Linked DNA regions of Homo sapiens: region 2 is linked to region 1. The links come from fine-mapping of genetic effects on gene expression. Tissue or cell type: whole blood. Region 1 holds a variant in brackets; the other region holds the start of a gene. All regions are shown on one strand. Distances are between the middles of the regions.

Region 1 (8,000 bases):
TCCCTGGCCCCTGTGCTGCCCCAAGGCATCACTAGTGAAATCACATGTTGGTCGGGCTGTTTACTTGTTCACTGTCTGCCTGCCCTCGTGAGGGCGGGGCTGCTCTGACCACCACTGGATCCAGTGCCTGGAAGGCCAGTGAGGAACAAGCATGGCTGCTGTGTTGTCAGGAAGGGGAGAGCACGGGCCTGAGGCCAGACTGCACGCTTTCTGAACTAACCTAAAAACAAACATTTGCGGCCGGCTGTGGTGGCTCACGCCTGTTTAGTCCCAGCAATTTGGGAGGCTGAGGCAGGTGTGGATCGCCTGAGGTCAGGAGTTCGAGACCAGCCCGGCCAAGATGGTGAAGCCCCGTCTCTACTAAAAACACAAAATTAGCCTGGCGTGGTGGCGGGTGCTTGTAATCCCAGCTACTCTGGAGGCTGAGGCAGGAGAATTGCTTGAGCCCGGGAGGCAGAGGTTGCAGTGAGCTGAGATTGCACCATTGCACTCCAGCCTAGGTGACAAGAGTGAGATTCCATCTCAAAAAAAAAAAAAAAAAAATTGCTGAAACTTCTCAAAAGAAGGGCTTGGACCACACCTTCTTCAGCCTCAGTAACTTAAGAGAAAAATCATCTCTGCAAGGCCCAGGACAGCTGTGTGTCTGCGGCTGGGTGAGAGAAGGCAGTGCCTCATCCCAGAGTCCATCAGCCAGCCGTGCCTAGGGCAGTCCTCCCAACTTGTCAACACGCCATATGCAAGGGGCATGATGGAGTGGCTTCCAAAGAAGACAGAGGGGCGCCACTGCTGCAAGCACTCTCGGGGAAGGGCTGGGCACAGGGGTGAGTTCCAAAGCTAACTGCAGAGCTGGAGGCCCAGGACACCACAGGAGACCCTGCTCACTGACCTCTGAGCAGAATACTCCAGGGCAGGCTTGCTTGGAAGCAGGTGGAGAGGTCACAGAGAAGATGGGGCTCACCTTCCCCCGGGGACACACCCAGAGGAAGGGGGTGTCCATGAGCCACAGCTTTCGGGTTTTGAGAGGAGGAAATATGCTCATTCTGCTGCCCAGAGACAGGGGAGGGACCCAGTGTCCACCCTGTCCTAGGGTTCAGAGCCCCAGACCCAGAAACTGAGCAGCACCACCTGCCCCTTAGTGCAGCGAGGCAGCTCGAGCCTCAGGAAATCTATTCTGTGCACCTCCTGAGGGCCGGGCCTGCAGAGCTGGGCAAGGCCGCAGCTCCCCGGCTCAGCAAGTACAGGTGCAGCTGGTAACGGAGGGCTTATGGAGTTCCGGTGAGGAGAGGAGGATGGCGTTTCTCATGACACATCCACCAGCTGCTTCTCTGACCTGCAGCTGTGCCTCCGGCCCCTCTCATCACCCCCACGGGAAGCCAATGCTCCCGCGAATGCCCAATCATGTGGAAGGACAGGGGGACAGGGTGGGGCGGGGTTCTCAGGTGCCTTGAGCCCCAGGAACGCCTCCATTAGGCTTTGTTCCAAGGCCCCACAGTCACAGGGATTGGGAGTGAACCAATTTGGGCATGAACAGAGAACATTTTTAGACCAAGTTTTTCTCCAAATGAAAACTGATGACTGACATGGGTCTCTCCTCTAACCCCTTCTGTATTTACAGACTAGCATTTGAGCAAAATAAATGCAGCTGTGAGAAGCAGAAGGCTGGAACAGAGCCTGGAGGAAAGACCCATGCAAGGACAGAAAATCTCAGGGCCTGACTGAATTTTTGGGTTGTGATTTTTTTAAACAAACACCAACCACCTCGACTGTGGCATGCAAGGCTTGGCACCCCTCATCGCAGAGGTCCTGGGCCGGGGCAGAGCCTTGGAACTCAGCACACACATTCTGGCCCGGAGTCTTGGCCAAACTCTCAGAGCCCTGTCATTAACGGCAATTAGTTTACTTTGTTTTTCTAGAAGCTGGGACAACATGGATGTCAGGGTGAAGAAATCTTACTCTGACTAATGAGTGGACTGCGAGCTCATGCTGCTGGGGCTCCATCAGGCCTCGCCTGTCTCTAAAAGCGCCTGGGAGCTCAACCCAGGGGCCCCTGCTGAGAGCCTGCTGCTCTAGTGAGGGCCTGCAGGTAGTGGACTGTGGTCCTGGTTATCTACGTGGGGCCCAGGAGGATCCTGGGGTGGTCAGAGGCAAAATTCTCCAAGCCCATGCACACAGGGCAAAGTCTAGGCACTGACCTTTGGCCGTGCACTCCCTGTCCCAATGCCTGACATGGGGCCTCCAGTCCTTCTCTGATACCGGGCAGGGCATAATGAGAAAGGTGTTCCTGGTACAGAGAGAGGCCATGGCACATGTTTGTCACTGTCTGCTGAGCCTGGCACAAGGAGAACCAGTGAGGGCGACCTGAGTCCGAGTCAAAACCATTCCTCCCCCTGCAGAAGCCGTCGCCCCCGTGGTTGGGTGGGTTGCACTTCCTAGATTTGGACTGCGCCCACCGGATTTTTCCAAGGGTTTGGGGGAGCTTGTGGGCCCAGCATCATATCAAGAGCAGTTGTTGTGATCACTGCTGAGTATGTACTGGGGCTCTGAGTGCCCCAAGCGCCCTGCCACCAACAAAACTTCTCTTCAGGATGCAGATGTTGTGCTTCAGAGCCTAAAGGTCAGAAACCGAGCAGGACCCTCGCTGCCCCACCTCCAGCTCACCTTCTGCCCCGATGGAGACCAGCTTGACGCCTTTGCTGGCAATAAAGTCCAGCGCTTTGTTCACATTGTTGATTTTGTGCACTCTCATCTTCCCCCGCTCCGGCTTAGGTAACCGCTCCCCTGAGAAGTGCACAAAGAGAAAAGAGGGGGCGAGACAGAGAGAGAGAAAGGGAGAGAGGGCGAGAGGGAGAGAGGCTTTAGAGTCTCCTCTGTTCTCCAAAAGCAGGTTCCTCTGCTGGCCCACCAGGCCACTCTGGCCCCACCCATCAGACCACCGTGCAGCTATTAAGGGGTGCCCTCTCCTCCCCAGGAGCAATGGGACAGCTGGGTGGGCAGGGTCTCTGGGGACCGCTGTGGCAGAGCACCTGTGCCAGGGCTCGGCCGCACTGCGTGGCTGGGAGTCTCACCTGATATGACCTCCAGGAGCAGCATGAGCTTGAGCCCGTCTCGGAAGTCCTCATCAATGTTCTCGATCTGTGTGCCTGCCTTCCGCAGGTGGGAGTTGCACCATGCCGTGAAGGTCTGGGGAAGCAGAACAAAGGACAGTGCGCAGAGTCAGCCTGGCTGTCGGGGCTCTCTCCACACACCTGCAGGGCCGCAGCTCTGACCTCAGGAGAACCGCAGCTGCCACGGAGCACTCGCCGACACACACCGTACATGGCCGATACACACATTGTTTCTGATCCTTACAGTGACCCCGGGAGGCAGATGTGAGGAAACTGAGGCTCGGGGTGGTTAATGACCCATCACAAGACCATCCAGGCGGTAAGTGGCAGAGCTTGGATTTGAACCCAGGTCTGTCAATTTTGGCAACATGTGCTTTTTCCACACCCCCAAGCTGCCTCAAGGGAGACCAGTACGCACACCAGACAAAAGCGCCTCAGCCCGCCGCCGGCTCACTCAGTCACACAAACATGACTGAGCACCAGGCTCGGTGGTGTGGAATGAACAGGTCGGGCTCCTGCCCTCATGGGGCTTGTTTTCTTGATGAAGGCCAGCCCTTCATCTGCCAGCTAGACCCAAAGGCCCCAGCTGGACCCTGGCTTCCGTGACCCGTGGCTGCTCTCCTCAGGCAGGAGCTCAGGCTGCTACGTTCCAATCACGTGCACAGATACAACCCAGAACAGGAAAGTGGCAGGAAAAGAAAAGCTCCCATAAATGCAGGATTTCCTCGAGTCTCTCTTTGAGCTTTGGGCAGCCCAAGAGCAAGCCCTCCCAGGAAAGGCCAGGAACACAGACCCTCTGAGCCCTGCACACACGCCTGTGTCGCCTGGCTTCCTGCAAGCAAGATGCCCCCGTCCCTCTGTCTCCTGGAGAACATGCCATGCCCTATCCTTCCTATTCTTTTTTTTCCTTTTTTTTTTTTTGAGAAGGAGTCTCGCTCTGTCACCCAGGCTGGAGTGCTGTGGCGCAATCTCAGCTCACTGCAATCTCTACCTCCTGGGTTCAAGCGATTCTCATGCCTCAGCCTCCTGAGTAGCTGGGACTACGGGTGTATGCCAACATGCCCATCTAATTTTTGTCTTTTTAGTAGAGATGGGGTTTTACCATGTTGGCCAGGCTGGTCTTGAACTCCTGGCCTCAAGTGATCTACCCGCCTCGGTCTCCCAAACTGCTGGGATTACAGGCGTGAGCCACCACACCCAGCCCTATCCTTCCTATTTTTAAGACTCAGTGCAGCTTAGAGGAGGCTGGAAGGCAAGTGGGAGGCAGGCCCCCTCACCGGGGTCAGGCAGCCGCATCTAAGGAGAATGTTTCTGATGATCAACTGGAAGGGATGGAGGGTACTAAACAAGAAGCCGAAGTCCCTGACCCTAACAGACCAACGATGCTGACAGGGCATGGGTACACCCAAGCACAGGGCAC[G/A]CAGCCTCCTGGTGGTGCCCGGCTACTCAGCCCCCTGCAAGCTGGGGCATGCTCATAGACATCAGGGCCACAGAAGATCTCAGATCAGTTAACACCAACACGCCCAGGCGCCTTCAGGGAAACCAGCCCACGCACCCTCCTGCAACAGGACCTGGGAAAAACCCCAAGTGTCTGCTTCTTATAGGAACCCCTGTACCCCACCCCCTCCATCTGCAGGGGCCAGTGTAGAAGCAAGCAGACAGCCAGGGACACACAAGAGCACATTCCACGCCCCGGGTGCAGGCGGAGGCCATGCGGAGGACAAGGGGCTTCTACGGGGGCTCTGACCAAGCACCATGTGTTTTGACAACTGTCGCCAGCCCTGCTCATTCAGGGAGACTCGACACAAAGCCCCCTCCCAGACAAAGCAGCTGCCTAATTAATACGCCATACCAGTGTGGACCCAGCATGGGGCTTCCTTCCAAATCCGAAAGGGGGCAAGAGTGGACAGCTAGACCATCCCCCACCACCACCTCTCACCATGGAGAATTCCTCTACCTGGGAGACAGAGACCCCTCCTGGTGGCACAACGCTGTTCCCCCACTAAAGATACCTCCGCCCCGCCATGTAGCCAACCCTGGGCACCCCTCAAAAGTCAGGCCAAATGCCGTGCCTGGAGGGTACCCGCACCATGGCCTCCCTGACCCGGTTCTGCCTCAGACAGCCTCCTCCCTGCAGACCACATCACGCCCTTGCTCTCTGGTCTCTAACAGTTCTTGTCTCCAACAGTTCTTGTCTCCCTCCCTCCCACGGCTATGAACTCCTTGAGGGGAGGGGAGCCAAGGCAGGTTCTCACTGCGGAGAGTACTAACTCACCTTCCCAGCCTCCCCCATACAATACTGAATTCAGAGAGCCCAGGGCGGGAACCATGCTTACACCACTCATGTGGGCACGTCACCTAACCTTCCTAACTTCCATTTCCTCCTCTGCAACGTGGGGATGAAGACCCCACCTAGGCCACGGGCAGTGTGAGGACTCAAGATGGCCATGCCTGCAGCGTGCATGGCAATGCTCAGGAAGTGGCAGCTCTCTGGATGGCCCTGTGCCTCCCAGCATCTCCTCCCTCCCTGCCCTGGTCTCAGGAGTCCTGCCCACCCCCTCCACAGTGTGCCTGCTCTGTCCCCGGCCCACCCTCAGCACCTCTCCCGTAGCAACCCCCAGTCACTTTTAGTCTTATTGGATGTTGCATGCACATGAGCTTTCTCTCCTACCATGTGCGAGCTCCAGGGGTTGGGAAGTACGGCGCCTGCACCTTTACAGCCCCAGAGCACTGCCAGCCTTGATGGCAGGCAGCAAGCAGGCGTGGAGCCCAGGAGCCCAGCAGCCCTGCAGAGCAAAGGGCAGCAGCAAATGGGCTGGGAAGGAAGTGGCCACGGATGCTAGGCCTCTACTCTCACATGTGCCTGAGAGCAGGCACTGCTGGGCAGCAAAGTAGCCAAGACACATCCCACAGCCTGAGGACAAAAGAGGGCTGTTCCCCGAGGGCAAGGCCCCGTGCTCTGGTGTTGCCAGGCCCAGACCTAGGCACCTGGGCTGCAGGGAGGGCCACGCACGCGTGCAAACAGCACCCCTCACAGCCTTGGCCTGTGTGGGCTGCTCCTGCAGGCTCTGCAGGGGCACAGACCTGGGTTTGGGTTTGAATACCTGCCCCTTGGCTTACTCATTCCATGTTTTCAACCAAGTGACTTTACCTACTTAAGTCTGTTTCCTTCCCTGTAAGATGGATTTATCAGAATCTACCTCCTGCAGTGTGCTCTAAGAATTAAACTAGGGAAAATACATTTAAAGCATGTGACAGGCTCCTTGGCATAAAGTAAGAGCCAGATGAATCACACGCATGTGTGTGCATGTACACACGCACATAAGCACGTGCTGAGATCCAGTCTCTTCTCTGCAAAGGCTCTCAGACCACCCACTGGTATGCAGGGAAAATGGGATGGCAGGAGACCCTCTGCGGATGGCCCCACCCCACCCTGTGGAGGCTGTGAACAAACCTCGCCGCTTGGGTTCTGGCCACCTGTCCTCAGAGGGGCTGCTGCCCTACCCGCCCTCCATACGTACATCCCACCTGTGCTCATCTTCTCTGGGTAGTAAACAAGAGCTCTGGCTTGGGCATCACACAGGTGCGGATTCACATCTTGCTTCTGCCACTGAGGCCTCAGGCAAGCAATAAGCCTCAGTTTCCTCACTGATAAACAGGACAGTAACCGAGAGGTTAAGATAGGGATTAAACACAAGGACACATGTCAATCACTCCGTGCTGTGTTAAATGCATGTCAAAGGAAGGTTTGCTCTGAAAGCAATGGTAACTCTTCCGTGTACTCTGTCTTCCTGACTGACACAGGCAAAGCCCCAAGCACAGGTGCTCAGGGAGGATGCCCACTCGCCTGGCCTGGATGACGCAGAAGGGAACTCCCACCCAGATCCGGACCTGACACAGGCTTGGGGAACCCCACTGATGCACTCCTGTTCTCACCCCATGTCTTGCTTTGCCCTGTTTTGTCCTCCTGGAAGATGAGGGGCATCTATTGACATCAGAGGTTCACAAAGCCCTCAGCTCTGGTGAGGAGAGCCTGCACTCACAAGGCCACCCTTGGGAACAGGTCGACCATGACGGCCACTTCTCCATGCGGAGAGACTGGTGAGTAGGAGCTGGAGTTCGAATGGGACATTAAAAATTCATCGCTTCTTCTACTTGGTTACAAAAATAACACTCTGCTTCCATCCTTCCTCTCCCTACCCGGTTTAGACTACGCTGCGTGGGGTGGATGGTGTGGAGAGGTGGTTTCTATAGATGGGGGCCCTATGCGCCCACCACGCCGCCCTCCACCATGCAAAATTCTCAGAATGTGGGCAGCCGACCTCATGATGCCCCAGGCCACCATGGGTCCGTACATATTCATTCTCTGGACAAGCATATGCTGGGGGTCAGCAGAGGGCCAGGCCCTGTGCTGAATCCATAACAGTGAGCAAAAGCAGACACTCTCATGAGGCTCCAGGTCTGATCTCATTAATCAAGCGATCAGTCCACTCCAGAAATAACGCCCTTAGGAAAAGTGGTAATAATAACAGCAATAACTGCAGCAGACACTTCCATAGAGTCTACTAGGGGCGGGCACTGCTCGAGGCACTTGGTCACTTACTAATTCTGTCACCCTCGTAATCATCTCTGGAGGGAGGTGCTAGTACTGCCTCCATTTTGCAGATGAGGAAACGGAGGGCCTGAGAGGTGAAGTGGCTTGCTCCCATCAGTCACACACCTAGAAAGTTACAGAGCTGGGTTTAAAGCCAGGTGCTGGGCTCCTGGGGCCGAGTTTGTGTCACCTCCCCTGGGATGGGAGCTGAAGAGTGCGGTCAGCATGGTGGCGGGGTGGGGGGGCACCAAGCGACTGGTGAGGCAGACACAGAAAGGTGTCCTTGAAGAAGTCATTCTCAA
Region 2 (8,000 bases), 45 kb before region 1:
TAACTCCTTTTGTCCAAAGTAATGCTATCTGCTTTAAATCCGGTTTTCTCTAATATCAGATTTGCCCTGATTTTTGTGTATCTGCTTTTGACTGATAGCTATTTCTAATCCTTTTATTTTAAAACTTGGTGGTGTTATCTTTGGAAAGTGTTTTGAAAGCTAAACAGTTGAATTTTGTTTGTTGATGTTCCCAAGTACGTTTCACACATTTGCATAATGTTGTTATAACTGATATGCTTGGTTTTATTTAGGTCATTGTGTGATGCTTTTTGCTTTTATTTTCTATGATTCGCTGCATTTTCCTTTGCTTTTCGACCATTGCCAAATAGATTACATTTTCTTTTCCTTTCATTTTAAGCTACTTCAGTGGTTTGAAAGTTGTACATCTGGCCAGGTGCAGTGGGTCAGGCCTATAATCCTAGCACTTTGGGAAGCTGACATGGGAAGTTTGCTTGAGCTCAGGGATTCAAGACCAGCCCTGGCAACAAAGTGAGACTCCATTCCACCAAAAAGTCTAAAAATTTGCTGGGTATGGTGGCACAAGCCTGTGGTCCCAGCTACTCAGGAAGCTGAGGCAGGAGGATTGCTTGAGCCCGGGAGGTCAAGGCTGCAGTGAGCCAAGATTGTGCCACTGCACTCCAGCCTGGGCAACAGAGTCAGACCCTGTCTCAGAAACAAAACAAAACAATACAAAAAAAGAAACAGTAAGACATGGCGCGGTGGCTCCTGTCTGTAATCCCAGCACTTTTGGAGGCCAAGGCGGGTGGATCACCTGAAGTGAGGCTTTCAAGACCAGCCTGACCAATATGGTGAAACCCTGTCTCTACTAAAAATACAAAAATTAGCCAGCCGTGGTGGCACATGCCTGTAATTCTAGCTACTCGGGAGGCTGAGGCAGGAGAATCACTTGAACCTGGGAGGCGGAGGTTGTAGTGAGCCAAGATCACGCCACTGCACTCCAGCCTGGGTGACGAGGCGAGACTGTCCCAAAAAATAAACCAACAAACAAGTGAAAGAAACAGCAGCCCAGATCCAAGGAGACAGGTTGACTGTGGATGGCCGAGGCCGCCCACCTCGGCCTCCCAAAGTGCTGGGATTACAGGCGTGACCCACCACGCCCAGCCAGAAAGCTCGTTTTGTAACCCACTTTTGGTAGCCATGTACGTAGGCAGCTTGGACAATATCTGTGGGTCCACTTGGAGGGAAGGAGGCCAGAAGGCTTGAGGGACATCTGAGTGGCATGGAGGTGACAAGGCTCTGGGAGGGCAGCAGACACTCTTGAACGCCAAGGCATGGTCAATGCCTCGTGCAGTGAGCAGCGACTCTGTGTCAGGCACTTCTCTGAACTCATCCCACGTACGAACTCATTCGCTTCCCACAGCAACCCTCCGAGGTACGCCCTATCATCATCCGCATTGCAGAGATGAGGAAACTGAAGCACAGAGAAGTTAAGTGATGTGCCCAAAGACACACAGGTGTAGGTGGCAGAGCTGGGATTGGACCCCAGGTGCTGTGGCTCCTAATCCCGGCAGGCTGGAAGCACTCCCATATGACTCCCGTGGGGCTGGGGTGGGCTTGGCAATCCTACACGAAGAAAACTTTTTTTTTTTTTTTTTTGAGATGGAGTCTCACTCTCTCACCCAGGCTGGAGTGCAGTGGCGTGATCTTGGCTCACTGCAACCTCCGCCTCCCAGGTTCAAGCGATTCTCCTGCCTCACCCTCCTGAGTAGCTGGGATTACAGGTGTGTACCACCATGCCCAGCTAATTTTTTTTTTTTTTTTTTTTTTTGAGACAGAGTCTTGCTCTGTCAACCAGGCTGGAGTGCAGTGGCGGCTCACTGCAAGCTTCGCCTCCTGGGTCCACGTCATTCTCCTGCCTCAGCCTCCCGAGTAGCTGGGACTACAGGTGGCCGCCACCATGCCTGGCTAATTTTTTGTATTTTTTGTAGTAGAGATGGGGTTTCACCGTGTTAGCCAGGATGGTCTTGATCTCCTGACCTCGTGATCTGCCTGCTTTGGCCTCCCAAAGTGCTGCTGGGATTACAGGCTTGAGCCACCGTGCCCGGCCTTTTTTTTTTTTTTTTTGAGATGGAGTTTTGCTCTCTTGCCGAGGCTGGAGTGCAGTGGTGCAGTCTTGGCTCACTGAAACCTCCACCTCTCGGGTTCAAGCGATTCTCCTACCTCAGCCTCCTGAGTAGCTGGGATTACAGGTGCGTGCCACCACACCCAGCTAATTTTTTTGTATTTTTTAGTAGAGATGGGGTTTCACCATGTTGGCCAGGCTGGTCTGGAACTCCTGACCCGCCCGTCTCGGCCTCCCAAAGTGCTGGGATTACAGGCGTAGTAAACTACCGCGTCCAGCCTAATTTTTGTATTTTTAATAGAGATGGTGTTTCACCATGTTGGCCAGGCTGGTCTTGAACTCCTGGCCTCAAGTGTTCTGCCCACCTCAGCCTCCCAAAGTGCTGGGATTACGGGCATGAGCCACCATGCCCGGCCCTGTTTTGGGGGGTTTTTTGAGATGCAGTCTTGCCCTGTTGCCCAGGCTGGAGTGCAGTGGCACAATCTCGGCTCACTGCAACCTCCGCCTCCCAGATTCAAGCGGTTCTCCTGCCTCAGCCTTCTGAGTAGCTGGGATTACAGGTGCCCGCAACTATGTCCGGCTAATTTTTGTATTTTAGTAGAGACGGAGTTTCACTACATTGGCCTGGCTGGTCTCGAACTCCTGACCTCAGGTGATCTGCCTGCCTCGGCCTCCCAAAGTGCTGGGATTACAGGCATGAGCCACCACGCCCAGCCAGAAAGCCTGTTTTGTAACCCACTTTTGGTAGCCGTGTACGTGGGTGGCTTGGACAATATTTGTGGGTCCACTTGGAGGGAAGAAGGCCAAAAGGCTTGAGGGACATCTGAGTGGCGTGGAGGTGACAAGGCTCTGGGAGGGCAGCAGACACCCTCAACGAGGGTGGAAGGTCTGCTGGGACCAGCACTGCTGAGGCTCTGGCATCTCCGTACCTGTTTCTCCCATTTCCTCCAATGGCTCCAGAGTCCTTTGGGGGAAATACTGCTCCATCCAGACTCTGAGTGGCGTGGGCCAGGGCAGGGCATCATGGTCACCAGATGGCTCCCAGCACAGGAGAGGTACAGAGCCATCCCTCCAGGGTCAGCCTCCCTGGGCAAGCAGGCTGAGTCTACCTTGTCCGGGAGGGGAGGAGGCGCATCCTGAGGGCTTAGGGGGCGTGAGCGGAGGGGAGCTCAGGGTCCCTCGGTGGATGATGGAGGAGCCACATATGGGTTACAGGGACAGACAGAAAGATGGAGAGGAAGAGACAGGGAGGCAGACACAAGGTACACTGACAGGGTCTGAAGGAGGAGGGGCTGGGGGCCTGGACTCCTGGGTCTGACAGGTACAGAGAGGAACAGACACACGCTGAAAGAGACACAAAGAGAGAGGGGACAGGCATAGTGATTCACGCCTGTAATCCCAACACTTTGGGAGGCCAAGCGGGGAGGATCACTTGAGCCCAGGAGTTCGAGACCAGTCTGGGCAACAAAGTGAGATCCCCGCCCCATCTCTACAAAAAAAAAAAAAAAAAAAAAAAGAGGGTGGGGTGGGGAGAGGGGTGGAGTTGGGGAAATACAGAGACACAAATATTGCCAGAAACAAAAAACAAGAAAGGGCCAGGCACAGTAGCTCACATCTGTAATCCCAGCTCTCTGGGAGGCTGCTGAAGCAGGAGGATCACTTGAGGCCAGCAGTTCAAGACCAGCCTGGGGAACATATGGGACCGCCCCCCGCCACCCCTCTGTCTCTACTTTAAAAAAAATTTTTTTTAATTAACAAAACCTGACCAGGCACAGTGGCTCACGTCTGTAATCCCAGCACTTTGGGAGGCCAAGGTGGGCGGATTGCTTGAGGCCAGGAGTTCAAGACCAGCCTGGTCAACATGGTAAAATCCCTTCTCTAACAAAAAATACAAAAATTAGCTGGGCATGGTGACACGAGCCTGTAATCCCAGCTACTTGGGAGGCTGAGGCAGGAGAATCACTTGAACCTAGAAGGCGGAGGTTGCAGTGAGCTGAGATCGTGCCACTGCACTCCAGAAACTGATGGAGAAGAAACATGAAGGCGGGGAGAGAGAAACTGTCAGAGGGAGGGGGAGAGAGGCAGTCTGAGAGATAGAGACACCGAGGTAAACCCGCCTCCTTCCCCAGCCCCACAGGCATAAGTAGGCAGAAGCTCACCCCCACACTGACCTCCTTCTTGGTGCTCTGACAGCGGCAGCCGGTCCTCCCTCAGCTCTGCCCGCCTTCTCTCCTGCTGCTGGCCAAGCCCATTAAGCTGCTACCTTGGCCACAACTGAAGGCCCCACGCCCTGGGAAGAAAGCTACTGAAGAGGCGTCCCTGCTCCCCAGCACCCCAAACCATCAATTAATATTAACGAGGGAAGGCTCCTCATTGCCTAAAGACCCCACTGGGGCTCCAATGGAAGAGAGGCCCCGCCCCCGTGACTCAGGAGGTTAAAGGGCCTGGTGCCGGCTTGTGAGGCCAGTGTCCAGATGGCATCCAGCAGTGGGAGGGTCACCATCCAGCTCGTGGATGAGGAGGCTGGGGTCGGAGCCGGGCGCCTGCAGCTTTTTCGGGGCCAGAGCTATGAGGCAATTCGGGCAGCCTGCCTGGATTCGGGGATCCTGTTCCGCGACCCTTACTTCCCTGCTGGCCCTGATGCCCTTGGCTATGACCAGCTGGGGCCGGACTCGGAGAAGGCCAAAGGCGTGAAATGGATGAGGCCCCATGTAAAGTGTGGCTGGGGTCTGGGCTCTGGGGTCTGAGGGAGGAGGGGCTGGAGGCATGGACTCCTGGGTCTGAGGAAGGAAGGCTGGGGGCCTGGACTCCCTGGTCTGAGGGAGGAGGGGCTCGAGACCTGGACTCTTAGGTCTGAGGGAGGAGGGGCTGGGCCTGGACTCCTGGGTCTGAGGGAGGAAGGGCTGGGCCTGGACTCTTGGGTCTGAGGGAGGAGGGGCTGGGGACCTGGACTCCTGGGTCTGAGGGAGGAGGGGGCTTGGACCTGGACTTCTGGATCTGAGGGAGGAGAGGCCAAGGCCTGGACACCTGGGTCTGAGGGAAGAGGGGGCTGGGGACCTGGACTCCGGGGTCTGAGGGAGGAGGGGCTGGACCTGGACTCCTGGGTCTGAGGGAGGAGGGGCTGGGGACCTGGATTCTTGGGTCTGAGGGAGGAGGGGCTCGGGACCTGGACTCCTGGGTCTGAGGGAGGAGGGGCTGGGCCTGGACTCCTGGGTCTGAGGGAGGAGGGGCTCGGGACCTGGACTCCTGGGTCTGAGGGAGGAGGGGCTGGGCCTGGACTCCTGGGTCTGAGGGAGGAGGGGCTCGGGACATGGACTCCTGGGTCTGAGGGAGGAGGGGCTGGGCCTGGACTCCCGGGTCTGAGGGAGGAGGGGGCTACCATGGGACTGGCTCAGCACAACTTCTGGAGACCCAGGGAAGCCATGCTCCTGCCCACAGGCTTCCAGGCCTTTCATGGGCTTGGAGGCCCTCACTCCTCTGGATGAGACCTTTCCTCGCTTTCTCAGGCTGAGGCCTGGAATCCCCCACCACCCACAGGAGTTCTGTGCTGAGCCGAAGTTCATCTGTGAAGACATGAGCCGCACAGACGTGTGTCAGGGGAGCCTGGGTGAGACCCTGAACCCACCTGGAGTCCTCAGATCCAGCTAGTTTCAGCTGAGATCCTGACAGCTCCATCCCTTTGTCCACCCACTCCCGGCCCCTGGATCCCTCCTCAGTCTCTTCTCTCCCTAGGCCTCTCTCTCCCTCCTCCCTCCTTCCTTCCTTCCTTTTTTTTTTTTTTTTTTTTTTGAGATGGGGTCTCACTCTGTCACCCATTCTGGAATACAGTGGCACCATCATAGCTCACTGCAGCCTTAACCTCCTGGACTCAAGCAATCTTCCTGCCTCAGCCTCCCAAGTAGCTGGGACTACAGGTGCATGCCACCATGCCCAGCTAATTTTTAAATTTTCTTGTAGTGGAGTCTTGCCATGTTGGCCAGGCTGGTCTTGAACTCCTAGGCTCACGTGATCTTTCTGCCTTGGCCTCCCAAAGTGCTGGGATTAGAGGCATGAGCCACCGCACCAGGCCTCCCTCCTTCCATCCTCACCTAATCCTGGCCTCTCCTCCCAGGTAACTGCTGGTTCCTTGCAGCTGCCGCCTCCCTTACTCTGTATCCCCGGCTCCTGCGCCGGGTGGTCCCTCCTGGACAGGATTTCCAGCATGGCTACGCAGGCGTCTTCCACTTCCAGGTACAGCTCAGTTCCTCTGCCCATGCCTCCGTTTCCCCCATGGTGACTTGGTGATATGGATTTTTCTTTTTTTTTTTTTTTGAGATGGAATCTCACTCTGTCATCCAGGCTGGAGTGCAGTGGCACAATCTCGGCTCACTGCAACCTTCGCCCCGCCCCCAGGTTCAAGCAATTCTCTGCCTCAGCCTCCTGAGTAGCTGGGATTACAGGCACCCGCCATCATGCCCAGCTAATTTTTTCTTATTTTTAGTAGAGATGGTATTTCACCATCTTAGCCAGGCTGGTCTCGAATTCCTGACCTCGTGATCCATCCGCCTCGGCCTCCCAAAGTGCTGGGATTACAGATGTGAGCCACCGCACCCGGCCAGCCATATGGATTTCATAGTTAACGTTGACTTGGGGCTGTAATTCCTGACTCTGGGACTGGCACAGCAGAGGCAGGGCCCAGGCAGGGTTGGAGGTTGGAAGCCGAGTCCGGCCCTGCATCTTCTCCCACCAGCTCTGGCAGTTTGGCCGCTGGATGGACGTCGTGGTGGATGACAGGCTGCCCGTGCGTGAGGGGAAGCTGATGTTCGTGCGCTCGGAACAGCGGAATGAGTTCTGGGCCCCACTCCTGGAGAAGGCCTACGCCAAGTGAGGACCCCAGTTCCAACCAGCTGCAGCCCTAAGTCCCCACAGCAGGCATCAAGCCACAGGGGGACCCAGAGTCCCCCAAGCTCTGCAATCCTCCAAACACCCCACCAAGAATCCCAAACCAAGTGACAACCGCCAGAACCCTCATATCACAACATCACCTGAGCAACTTCATGTTTTTTTTTTTTTTCTTTTTTTTTGAGACGGAGTCTCACTCACTCTGTCGCCCAGGCTGGAGTGCAGTAGCGCGATCTTGGCTCACTGCAACCTCTGCCTCCCAGGTTCCAGCGATTCTCCTGTCTCAGCCTCCCGACTAGCTGGGATTACAGGAGCGCACCACCATGCCTGGCTAATTTTTATATTTTTAGTAGAGATGGGGTTTCACCATGTTGGTCAGGCTGGTCTCCAACTCCTGATCTCAGGTGATCCACCTTCCTTGGCCTCCCAAAGTACTGGGATTACAGGTGTGAGCCACTGTGCTCAGCTGTACCTTCAAATCTTAAACCCCTCTCTCCATCAATATTTCACACAAAACATTCCTGGAGACCCCCAGTCACTCATAATTCTTAAGGATCCTGAAATCTCATATATCAGGCCCTGGATTCACCAAATCTGGGATTTATCCCCTCGGGTGAGCTGTATATCTTAGATTGTCTCTCCTGGTCCATTGAGAAATCTAAAGCACCCCCAAAATATTGGGGGTCACCCTGGGACCCTCAAATCTTTGCCTTTTCCCCATTCTGAGGCTCTGAAATTCCTGACAAGCCCCCATAGGGATGATCCCCCAAAGCGGACATCTACCAGAGGTTCAAGGTTTCAGACAGCACCAGGACTCTCAGAATTCTAACACAGCTCTCCCATGCCCCCCACCAAACCGAAGTCCTGGTCACCCCAAGGACCACAGGCCCAATCTCCAAGGGCTTCTGTATGTGCCACAGTTCCCCCCGTCAAGAGTCTGAATTTTTTTTTTTTTTTTGAGATGGAGTTTCACTCTTGTTGCCCAGGCTACAGTGCAATGGCGTGATCTTGGCTCACTGCAACCTTCGCCTCCCGA

The links. PIP is the estimated chance that this variant, and not a neighbour inherited with it, causes the effect.
Region 2: it holds the start of CAPN12, and the variant in region 1 is fine-mapped to the expression of CAPN12 in whole blood (INTERVAL, PIP above 0.99). The same link has a PIP of 0.9 or more in thyroid.

Annotation. Positions count from the first base shown.
Region 1 is chr19:38,695,780-38,703,779 of GRCh38, reverse strand. ACTN4 (actinin alpha 4) reads right to left here. Exons shown (of 21, transcript NM_004924.6): 2 at 3,066-3,180; 3 at 2,659-2,778. LOC107985291 (a long non-coding RNA gene) reads left to right here. Exons shown (of 2, transcript XR_001753937.2): 2 at 1,616-1,856. Among named protein-coding and RNA genes, the nearest start is that of CAPN12, 45 kb to the left of the region's middle. RefSeq lists an enhancer at 775-1,275. The variant G/A (reference allele first, on the strand shown) is at 4,525.
Region 2 is chr19:38,740,723-38,748,722 of GRCh38, reverse strand. It overlaps CAPN12 (calpain 12), which reads left to right and starts at 4,249. Exons shown (of 21, transcript NM_144691.4): 1 at 4,249-4,794; 2 at 5,621-5,690; 3 at 6,195-6,313; 4 at 6,813-6,946. The coding sequence starts at 4,558.